Linked DNA regions of Homo sapiens. The protein of the gene in region 2 purifies or fractionates together with the protein of the main gene of each other region. This does not show direct contact. Each region holds a gene or a part of one and is shown on either strand. Other genes may lie near its edges.

Region 1 (3,754 bases), on a different chromosome or scaffold from region 2:
TTTCTTGCCTTTTGTTTCAGGAGTATACACCTTAAATGATAAGAAGCAGTGGATAAATAAGGCTGTTGGAGATAAACTTCCTGAATGTGAAGCAGGTGGGTGCTGAGCACTGAGCACTTAAGAGAGCAGGCAGGCGTCCAGCGGGGAACGTCCTAGAGGCACAGCCTTCCAGTGCGGCTTCCTCTGAGCACACAAGAGCCAGGAGGAGGGATGTGGGAGAACCGCAGCTGGCCAGGGAGAGACTTAAGCAGTTAGGTGATGACTCCCTAAGGGTCACCAAGGGTCTTGTTCATTGGGGCCTGAAGGGCACTGGCTGAATCCACTGTCGGCACTGCCCACAGATCAGGAGAGCCTGTGCATACAGAGAGCCTGCTAGAAAGCCCTGGGTCTAAGGAGAAGCAAGCTCCAGGGAGAACAAGTCAAGGAATGACATAAAATCTTAATCCATGGAAGCCTAGCAGGAGGCTGGACATGGGCTGGAACTCCTGCTTCTCGTTATTAGGAGGAGCTGTTGCTCTCTCCTTTCATTCTCAGAACCAGAGGCAAAGACCCAGCCTCTTCTGCTCTTACTGGTGTGGAAATGCCAACCTGCCTCGTATTAACTGCACCATCTACAAAATCTGAGCTCCAGCCAGTGCTGCTCTAGATTCATCTTTCTTTAGAGAGAATGAATTATTGTAGCCCCTAGCCCTTTCAATGAATTTCAGGGAATTGTGGAAATTCCTTTATTGGGATAATTGTTTAAAAATAATACAGTTCGCGAGCTTCTATTCGGGGTGGAAGGAGATTGATGTGCAGAGCAGCTCCCGCTCATCTGACTTTTCACGGTTCACTGGGAACAATTTCCAAATAGCAAACTCTCTGGCTTCTCTCTCTTTGCAGATGACGGCTGCCCGAAGCCCCCCGAGATTGCACATGGCTATGTGGAGCACTCGGTTCGCTACCAGTGTAAGAACTACTACAAACTGCGCACAGAAGGAGATGGTAAGATGTGGACAACTGTCTCCATGCCCTACATACAACCCCCTTCTCTGACATTTCCATGATGGGTGGTGCTGAGGTGATTCGCCAGAAAGTTCGTTGCTCTCCTTGGAGCCAGGAGATTTAGATTCTAATAAGCGTTTTGTCGCCAGTAGCCATGGCCCTTTGGGCAGACTAACTTTTGTCAGCCTCAAGTTTTCTGTTTTGTTAAGGGGAGGCGATGCCATGCAGCCTACCTCATGTAAATCTCAGAGTCACATTTACATCTCCAGCAGATGTGGGAAAAGAAGGAATGCTGATGATGATGTCACCCTCACCTAGTGAGTCTTGCTGTCCTGGCACTGCTCTAAGGGCTTTATACTTATTTGCTCACTTAGTCCTCACAGTATCCCTCTGAACAGAGTTTATTGTTTTCACTTTGCTGATAAGGAAACTGAGGCACAGACAGGTTGAGTATCTTGCCCAAATTCAGGCAGCCTGTAAGAGGCAGAGTCAGGATTTGAACCCTGAGCCCTCCCTGTACTGCTTGGCTGTGACCGCCATGACCACAGTGTGTTCTGCTGGGCTTAACTGGCATCCAGGCACTTGGCTTCCAGCACAGCACTCTTTCCCTTCCTCCTTCTCATATACTCTCTCCTTTTCCCCTTCCTTTTTGTCCCCTTTTCCTCTTCCTTTTAGTTCTTCTCTTTAAATGCCTTCTCACTCTGCACGGGGTCTAGACTTGACTTCTCCTTTGGCTCACTTCTTGCCTTTTGTTTCAGGAGTGTACACCTTAAACAATGAGAAGCAGTGGATAAATAAGGCTGTTGGAGATAAACTTCCTGAATGTGAAGCAGGTGGGTGCTGAGCACTTAAGAGAGCAGGCAGGCGTCCAGCGGGGAACGTCCTAGAGGCACAGCCTTCCAGTGCGGCTTCCTCTGAGCACACAAGAGCCAGGAGGAGGGATGTGGGAGAACCGCAGCTGGCCAGGGAGAGACTTAAGCAGTTAGGTGATGACTCCCTAAGGGTCACCAAGGGTCTTGTTCATTAGGGCCTGAAGGGCACTGGCTGAATCCATTGTCTACATCGCCCACAGATTAGGAGAGCCTGTGCATACAGAGAGCCTGCTAGAGAGCCCTGGGTCTAAGGAGAAGCAAGCTCCAGGGAGAACAAGTCAAGGAATGACATAAAATCTTAATCCATGGAAGCCTAGCAGGAGGCTGGACATGGGCTGGAACTCCTGCTTCTCGTTATTAGGAGGAGCTGTTGCTCTCTCCTTTCATTCTCAGAACAAGAGGCAAAGGCCCAGCCTCTTCTGCTCTTACTGGTGTGGAAATGCCAACCTGCCTCGTATTAACTGCACCATCTACAAAATCTGAGCTCCAGCCAGTGCTGCTCTAGATTCATCTTTCTTTAGAGAGAATGAATTATTGTAGCCCCTAGCCCTTTCAATGAATTTCAGGGAATTGTGGAAATTCCTTTATTGGGATAATTGTTTAAATATAATACAGTTCACCAGCCAGGGCTCAAAAATCTCAGTATTTCCCACTTCCTTTGTTAGAAAAGTGGGAAATAGAGCTTTTTGTAATGTAAACAATTTAAAAAACAGAATTATTTTAAAACTGCAACTATTGGAAATGAGATCAGCAGGTGGTAAGGGCAAAGCATTTAAATCTTTCTACTTTACGCAGCAGTGACAGCCGCCCATGCTTTCACCCCTTTCTCAGATGGAAAGGCTCTTGCACATTTCCACTCACGAGTGTCTTGCTCTCCTTGACAGTATGTGGGAAGCCCAAGAATCCGGCAAACCCAGTGCAGCGGATCCTGGGTGGACACCTGGATGCCAAAGGCAGCTTTCCCTGGCAGGCTAAGATGGTTTCCCACCATAATCTCACCACAGGTGCCACGCTGATCAATGAACAATGGCTGCTGACCACGGCTAAAAATCTCTTCCTGAACCATTCAGAAAATGCAACAGCGAAAGACATTGCCCCTACTTTAACACTCTATGTGGGGAAAAAGCAGCTTGTAGAGATTGAGAAGGTTGTTCTACACCCTAACTACTCCCAGGTAGATATTGGGCTCATCAAACTCAAACAGAAGGTGTCTGTTAATGAGAGAGTGATGCCCATCTGCCTACCTTCAAAGGATTATGCAGAAGTAGGGCGTGTGGGTTATGTTTCTGGCTGGGGGCGAAATGCCAATTTTAAATTTACTGACCATCTGAAGTATGTCATGCTGCCTGTGGCTGACCAAGACCAATGCATAAGGCATTATGAAGGCAGCACAGTCCCCGAAAAGAAGACACCGAAGAGCCCTGTAGGGGTGCAGCCCATACTGAATGAACACACCTTCTGTGCTGGCATGTCTAAGTACCAAGAAGACACCTGCTATGGCGATGCGGGCAGTGCCTTTGCCGTTCACGACCTGGAGGAGGACACCTGGTATGCGACTGGGATCTTAAGCTTTGATAAGAGCTGTGCTGTGGCTGAGTATGGTGTGTATGTGAAGGTGACTTCCATCCAGGACTGGGTTCAGAAGACCATAGCTGAGAACTAATGCAAGGCTGGCCGGAAGCCCTTGCCTGAAAGCAAGATTTCAGCCTGGAAGAGGGCAAAGTGGACGGGAGTGGACAGGAGTGGATGCGATAAGATGTGGTTTGAAGCTGATGGGTGCCAGCCCTGCATTGCTGAGTCAATCAATAAAGAGCTTTCTTTTGACCCATTTCTGTGTTGTGTTCAGTCTTGAGTCTTTTTTATTTGCTCCTTTATGGTCCAGGGTAGTCAGAAGGTAT
Region 2 (2,329 bases):
TATTTTTTATTTTTTTTTATTTTTTTTGAGACAGAGTCTCGCTCTGTCGCGGAGGCTGGAGTGCAGTGGCGTGATCTCGGCTCACTGCAAGCTCCGCCTCCCGGGTTCCCACCATTCTCCTGCCTCAGCCTCCCGAGTAGCTGGGACTATAGGCGCCCGCCACCACGCCTGGCTAATTTTTTTGTATTTTTAGTAGAGACAGGGTTTCACCCTGTTTAGCCAGGATGGTCTCAATCTCCTGACCTTGTGATCCGCCCACCTCGGACTCCCAAAGTGCTGGGATTACAGGCATGAGCCACCGTGCCCGGCTACTTAACTTTTTAGAACCCCCAAAAACAGTTGCCCTAAACTCAGCTCAAGTGTGATTTGGTAAGGCCATGGTCTCTCCCATTTTACAAATGGGAGCACCGAGATACCCACCAAGAAAAATGAAATTCTTCCCTCACACCTCACAATACAGGTGCATCATTTAGTGTTCTGTAGTTGTAAGTCATAGAAACAGGCTCTGGCTAATACAAGAGCTGAAAGACTAAGGGGGAGAGCTGGGCGGCTTGGAAGATGCAGATGGGCAGGAATCCCTGGATGGCTTCCTCAAGGAGAAGCTACAGGAAGGATCTTGCTCAAGAGAAAGAGTCTGATTGGCCTAAGTTACATCCTCTGTTCACCCTTTTGCCAGGTGAGTGAGGGGCCACTCACTTGGCACATGGACTGGAGGAAGGGTGGTTCCCAAATGAAGAGCAAGGTGCTGTTACCCAAAGGCAGGAAAATAGATGTGGGCCAGGCCAAAGCCCACCTTTCGACTATTGTGAGTACTGTAGGGAAGGATACTGCCCCTGAGGTCTGCAGGCTTCTATATGTAAGCCAGCCAGAGGTGTCCATGAATGCAGTATCAGAAAGTCAGTCGGATCTATAAGCACCCTGTGTGCAGAGCACTCTACTAAGGGCTTTAGAGTGTACCAAGGAGTGGAGACATGCTCTCACTTCTGATTTGTGAGCTTGACAGGGATGAATGTAACCACATAAGTTAAATGTCATGTTAGACTTGTAGCCCCATATAGACAAGGATTTTAATGTCCCCAAGCTAAGACTCTGGGTGGGTGCATGTCCATTGGCCCAGGAATCCAGATGGAAACCACTTTGTGGAAATGAAATCTTGTGCCTAACATGCTCACTCTCTTTTGCCCTCTGTTTCTCTTCTTACTTACAGTGGGAACGTTATCATAGAAACAAAGTTTTTTGACGACGATCTTCTTGTAAGCACATCCAGAGTGAGACTTTTCTATGTTTGAAAGAAGAATGTGTGTACATTTCAAGAATTTGGGTTTTTTGGAGGGAGGAGGAAACTGTTTACTTTTTTCCTCCACACGTTTGATTTTTGACACATACACCCCTAATTCCCTCAACAGCAGAACCTACCTGCAGCCACCAGGGGACCAGCTCTGTGTAGGTAACCAGATGGCTCTTTTTCCCAAGCCACCATCTTCCAGCTGACCAGACTAAACTCCCAACCCCAGACCAGGGCAGGGGACAGGTCTCAAGTCCTTCCCAGCATACACACAGGGAACAAACACATACCACAAACCGGTAACTGTACCTGTCACCCTCCTTGTCTCCTCCTTGGGCCCTACAGGCTACACATCTACCTTTGGCCCCTGGTTTTGGAAAAATTCCGTGTTCCTGACCCATGTTTAGTTTTTTCCTACCATTTCTATTTCATACATTCTCATACATTTAACTTGTAAAATAGACTGTGATATTATTACATAATGTAATTAAAAATATGAATTAAAATATTCCTACAGTCTTTAGCATGGCACTGCTTTTATCTCTCCTTTTTCTGGAAAGTGAACCTGGCTGCATAATGGAAAGAAACCAAATATAAGATCACAACTGTATTTCACTCCAGGAATGGAACTGATAGATCTTGTTCCCTAGTGCCACAGTTACTGCTTTCCAAAATTGTGCAACATACTTGAACCAAACCCATGACCTTAACATTTGTCTTTTAGACACAATCTTTAATGGTTCTTTTCCACAACATACATGCACCCTTTGTTTGTTTATTATTGTTAATTTTTTCTATTTGTTTACAGTATTCATTTGTTCAAGAAGTTTCAAGAAAGGGCAATTCTAAGTTAGTAGAGTAGGGACTCTCATATTCCTAAATGAGACTAGAAGCTACAAAATGAAAAGATCTGCATGAACCTAACTGGAGAATGATGGGAAGGCGTCTGGGCTGGGAGGAGGCTGGGAGGCCTTTAAGACTGTCGTCATTGGAAGCCAGCGTGGGAGAGAAGGGATTACAACTGGCAGTGCTTTCAGGTCCGAC
Region 3 (3,754 bases), on a different chromosome or scaffold from region 2:
TTTGTTTGTTTTCCTTGAGACGGAGTCTCACTCTGTCACCCAGGCTGGAGTGCAGTGGCGCCATCTCAGCTCACTGCAAGCTCTGCCTCCCAGGTTCACGCCATTCTCCCATCTCAGCCTCCCAAGTAGCTGGGACTACAGGCGCCTGCCACCACGCCCAGCTAATTTTGTTTTTGTATTTTTAGTAGAGATGGGGTTTCACCATGTTAGCCAGGATGGTCTCCATCTCTTGACCTCATGATCCGCCCGCCTCAGCCTCCCAAAGTGCTGGGATTACAGGCGTGAGCCACCGCGCCTGGCCGACCTGGCTAATTTTTAAATATTTTTGTGTAAAGATAGGGTCTCACTATGTTGCCCAGGCTAGTCTTGAACTCCAGGACTCAGGTGACTCTCCCATCTTGGGTCCATTAAGCTTTTAACTACAAACTACACTGAAATATGAAAGTTATTCAGAATGAAATGAATAAGAATGCAAAATTATAATCATACCGTAAGAATACTTTCTGAGTAATCCCAGCACTTTGGGAGGCCGAGACGGGTGAGTCACCTGAGGTCGGGAGTTCCAGACCAGCCTGGCCAACATGGAGAAACCCCATCTCTACTGAAAATAACAACAACAAAAAAAATTAGCTGGGCGTTGTGGAGGGCACCAGTAATCCCAGCGACTCAGGAGGCTGAGGCAGGAGAATCGCTTGAACCCAGGAGGCACAGGTTGCAGTGAGCCGAGATTGAGCCATTGCACTCCAGCCTGGGGGACGGGAGTGAAACTCCGTATCAAAAAAAAAAAAAAATGAATACTTTCTGAAAGTATTTATTCATACAAATAAAGACTTGACCCGTGAGGTAGGAACACAAATGGGCCACGGAATCACTCATTCCACAGAATATACCGAGTGCCCTTGAAGTGCTGGGCACTGCTCCAGGATTGGGGGCGTATTGGTGAAAGAGAAGCAAGCTGCCTGCTCAGATGGCAGGGAATGGGGGAAAACAGGGAGACAGTTTCCTGTTTGAGATGTTGGGAGATGCTTCGAGTAGTATATTTACTGGAAATAGACATTCAACTTGGATGTCCCTTTTTGGAAATGTGCCTGCGTCCAGGGCTGGGTTGGGGCCCCAATGAACTTTGGCTCTGACACAGCTGTTGCCACACTCAGTGGAACTGAATCTATGTTTGTCTTCCCCGGCATCCTTCACCCCAACTCTCCCCGCCACAACATACATCCCATGCCAGCCTGGGGACCCTCAAAGGTGGCTTCATCATTAGGTTTGTGGCTGGGTCCCACTGAAGTAAGTCTTGGCACTCAGAGGGATAGGAATTGAATGAAGACATGAGATTCCTCTGCGGGAGGCCTCTCTAGGAAATCTGTGGACTCACACGTTTACTAATGTTGCTGCAGCCCCGCACCCACCTTGGCCTTGGGCAGCCATACTCTAGGGCTTTTGTAACCTCTCCATGTGAGGAACTCAAATTAGACCTGGGTTTGGAGGCGGTGCTCCGAGCTGGCCTTTGGGGGAGGTTTTGTGCGAGGCATTTCCCAAGTGCTGGCAGGATTGTGTCACAGACACAGAGTAAACTTTTGCTGGGCTCCAAGTGACCGCCCATAGTTTATTATAAAGGTGACTGCACCCTGCAGCCACCAGCACTGCCTGGCTCCACGTGCCTCCTGGTCTCAGTATGGCGCTGTCCTGGGTTCTTACAGTCCTGAGCCTCCTACCTCTGCTGGAAGCCCAGATCCCATTGTGTGCCAACCTAGTACCGGTGCCCATCACCAACGCCACCCTGGACCGGGTGAGTGCCTGGGCTAGCCCTGTCCTGAGCACATGGGCAGCTGCCTCCCTTCTCTGGGCTTCCCTTTCCCTGCTGGCTGTGGTCGGACCCCCACTCCCGGCTCTGCCTTTTTCTCTTCTGGGTCCCCAGGGTGAAATTCTCACCAGCCCAGGGGACTCTGGAGGCACCCCCTGCCTCCAAACACAGAAGCCTCACTGCAGAGTCCTTCACGGAGGACGGTTCTGTGCTGGGCCTGGAGGGGCTGCCTGGGGGGCAATGACTGATCCTCAGGGTGAGCTCCTGCATGCGCACTGCCCACCAGGGGCCTCATCTCCCCATCTGCAAAATCAGGGAGAGATCTGCCTGAGTCTCCTCCCAGCTGACAGTCAAAGATTCAGCATCAAGCCCCCATCACCAGCTCCCACCTTCTCCCCAGATCACTGGCAAGTGGTTTTATATCGCATCGGCCTTTCGAAACGAGGAGTACAATAAGTCGGTTCAGGAGATCCAAGCAACCTTCTTTTACTTCACCCCCAACAAGACAGAGGACACGATCTTTCTCAGAGAGTACCAGACCCGGTGAGAGCCCCCATTCCAATGCACCCCCATCTCAGCTTCTGGCCAGAAGACCTGAGCAAGTCCCTCCTTCTTCCTGGCCTTGGCCTTCCCATGGGTGGAACCGGGAGGGCTGGCTTTAATCTCCACCAGACTCTTGCCCCAGGACTGTGATGGGCGATTGGCCACTTCTCAATAATCTTCCTGTTTTCCTTCCGCCTTCTGTTTGGCTTTAGACAGGACCAGTGCATCTATAACACCACCTACCTGAATGTCCAGCGGGAAAATGGGACCATCTCCAGATACGGTGAGGGCCAGCCCTCAGGCAGGAGGGTTCACTGTGGGAACAGGGCAGGCCAGCATAAGGTGGGGGCTGGATGTAGAGCCCTGGAGGCTTTGGGCACAGAGAAATAACCACTAACATTTTTGAGCTCTAACGATGTGCTCAGAAACAACTCTAAGAGGACACTGAGAGAATTAGAGGAGGAAAAAGAAGAACAGAGACCTCAAATAGTTTCCCCAAGGTCACACAGCTTATAATTAGAACTAGAATTGGAACTCCAGGCTGGCTTCAGATCTGCCTCTCTCTCATGCCCTCTTTAAGATCCTTTGCAAACCAATGGTAGAAGCCTGTATGTTGGAGAGGTGGTACCTTCAACTATGTCCCCCATCACCGCAGAGGTGGCACATGGCAGGGAGCTGATGGAGCTGAACTGACACCATTTAGCATCCCGAGCCTCCTCTCTGGGCCTCATTTTCCTCATCTGTAAAACGGAGAAAGGCCCTGACAGCCACGGTCTGTGTGAGGCTCCTGAGATCTCATGTACAGAAAGTGCTTGGCGTGGAGCTGGGCATGCAGCAGGGGCTGGGCACACGGTGGCCCAAAGGAGCCCTGGGCCTTCACTGATGGGCTGTGTGGCCACTGACACACCTAGGCCTCCTCACCTGTAAGACAGACACCATTGTGCCATCCCATGTTCTCACCCAGAGGCTCCTTTTCTCTTCCAGTGGGAGGCCAAGAGCATTTCGCTCACTTGCTGATCCTCAGGGACACCAAGACCTACATGCTTGCTTTTGACGTGAACGATGAGAAGAACTGGGGGCTGTCTGTCTATGGTAGGCATGCTTAGCAGCCCCAAACTCATGCCCCTCTCAGGCCTCACCCCCCATTCACCCACCCCTGGGCTGGCCCCTAGAACCCCAGCCCTCCCTGGCCTCCCGCCGGGCCCCACCATGTCCCCAGTCAGTCTCCTTGCTCCCCCTGCAGCTGACAAGCCAGAGACGACCAAGGAGCAACTGGGAGAGTTCTACGAAGCTCTCGACTGCTTGCGCATTCCCAAGTCAGATGTCGTGTACACCGATTGGAAAAAGGTAAACGCAAGGGATTGGACAGTGCCCACCTTGTCCATGGCCCAACTTGGGCAGCCCCAG

What was found.
Region 1: the proteins of PDE6D (region 2) and HP purify together in Homo sapiens (affinity purification with mass spectrometry; one large-scale study listed by BioGRID and IntAct). This does not show direct contact.
Region 3: the proteins of PDE6D (region 2) and ORM1 purify together in Homo sapiens (affinity purification with mass spectrometry; one large-scale study listed by BioGRID and IntAct). This does not show direct contact.

Annotation. Positions count from the first base shown.
Region 1 is NC_000016.10:72,057,372-72,061,125, forward strand, and holds the end of HP (haptoglobin isoform 1 preproprotein), read left to right. Parts: intron 1-20; coding exon 21-95; intron 96-882; coding exon 883-984; intron 985-1,742; coding exon 1,743-1,817; intron 1,818-2,740; coding exon 2,741-3,519; 3' UTR 3,520-3,684; downstream 3,685-3,754. UniProt on the Homo sapiens protein: As a result of hemolysis, hemoglobin is found to accumulate in the kidney and is secreted in the urine. Haptoglobin captures, and combines with free plasma hemoglobin to allow hepatic recycling of heme iron and to prevent kidney damage.
Region 2 is NC_000002.12:231,731,912-231,734,240, reverse strand, and holds the end of PDE6D (retinal rod rhodopsin-sensitive cGMP 3',5'-cyclic phosphodiesterase subunit delta), read left to right. Parts: intron 1-1,207; coding exon 1,208-1,289; 3' UTR 1,290-1,808; downstream 1,809-2,329. UniProt on the Homo sapiens protein: Promotes the release of prenylated target proteins from cellular membranes. Modulates the activity of prenylated or palmitoylated Ras family members by regulating their subcellular location.
Region 3 is NC_000009.12:114,321,459-114,325,212, forward strand, and holds the start of ORM1 (alpha-1-acid glycoprotein 1 precursor), read left to right. Parts: upstream 1-1,639; 5' UTR 1,640-1,675; coding exon 1,676-1,789; intron 1,790-2,204; coding exon 2,205-2,347; intron 2,348-2,559; coding exon 2,560-2,630; intron 2,631-3,331; coding exon 3,332-3,439; intron 3,440-3,590; coding exon 3,591-3,694; intron 3,695-3,754. UniProt on the Homo sapiens protein: Functions as a transport protein in the blood stream. Binds various ligands in the interior of its beta-barrel domain. Also binds synthetic drugs and influences their distribution and availability in the body.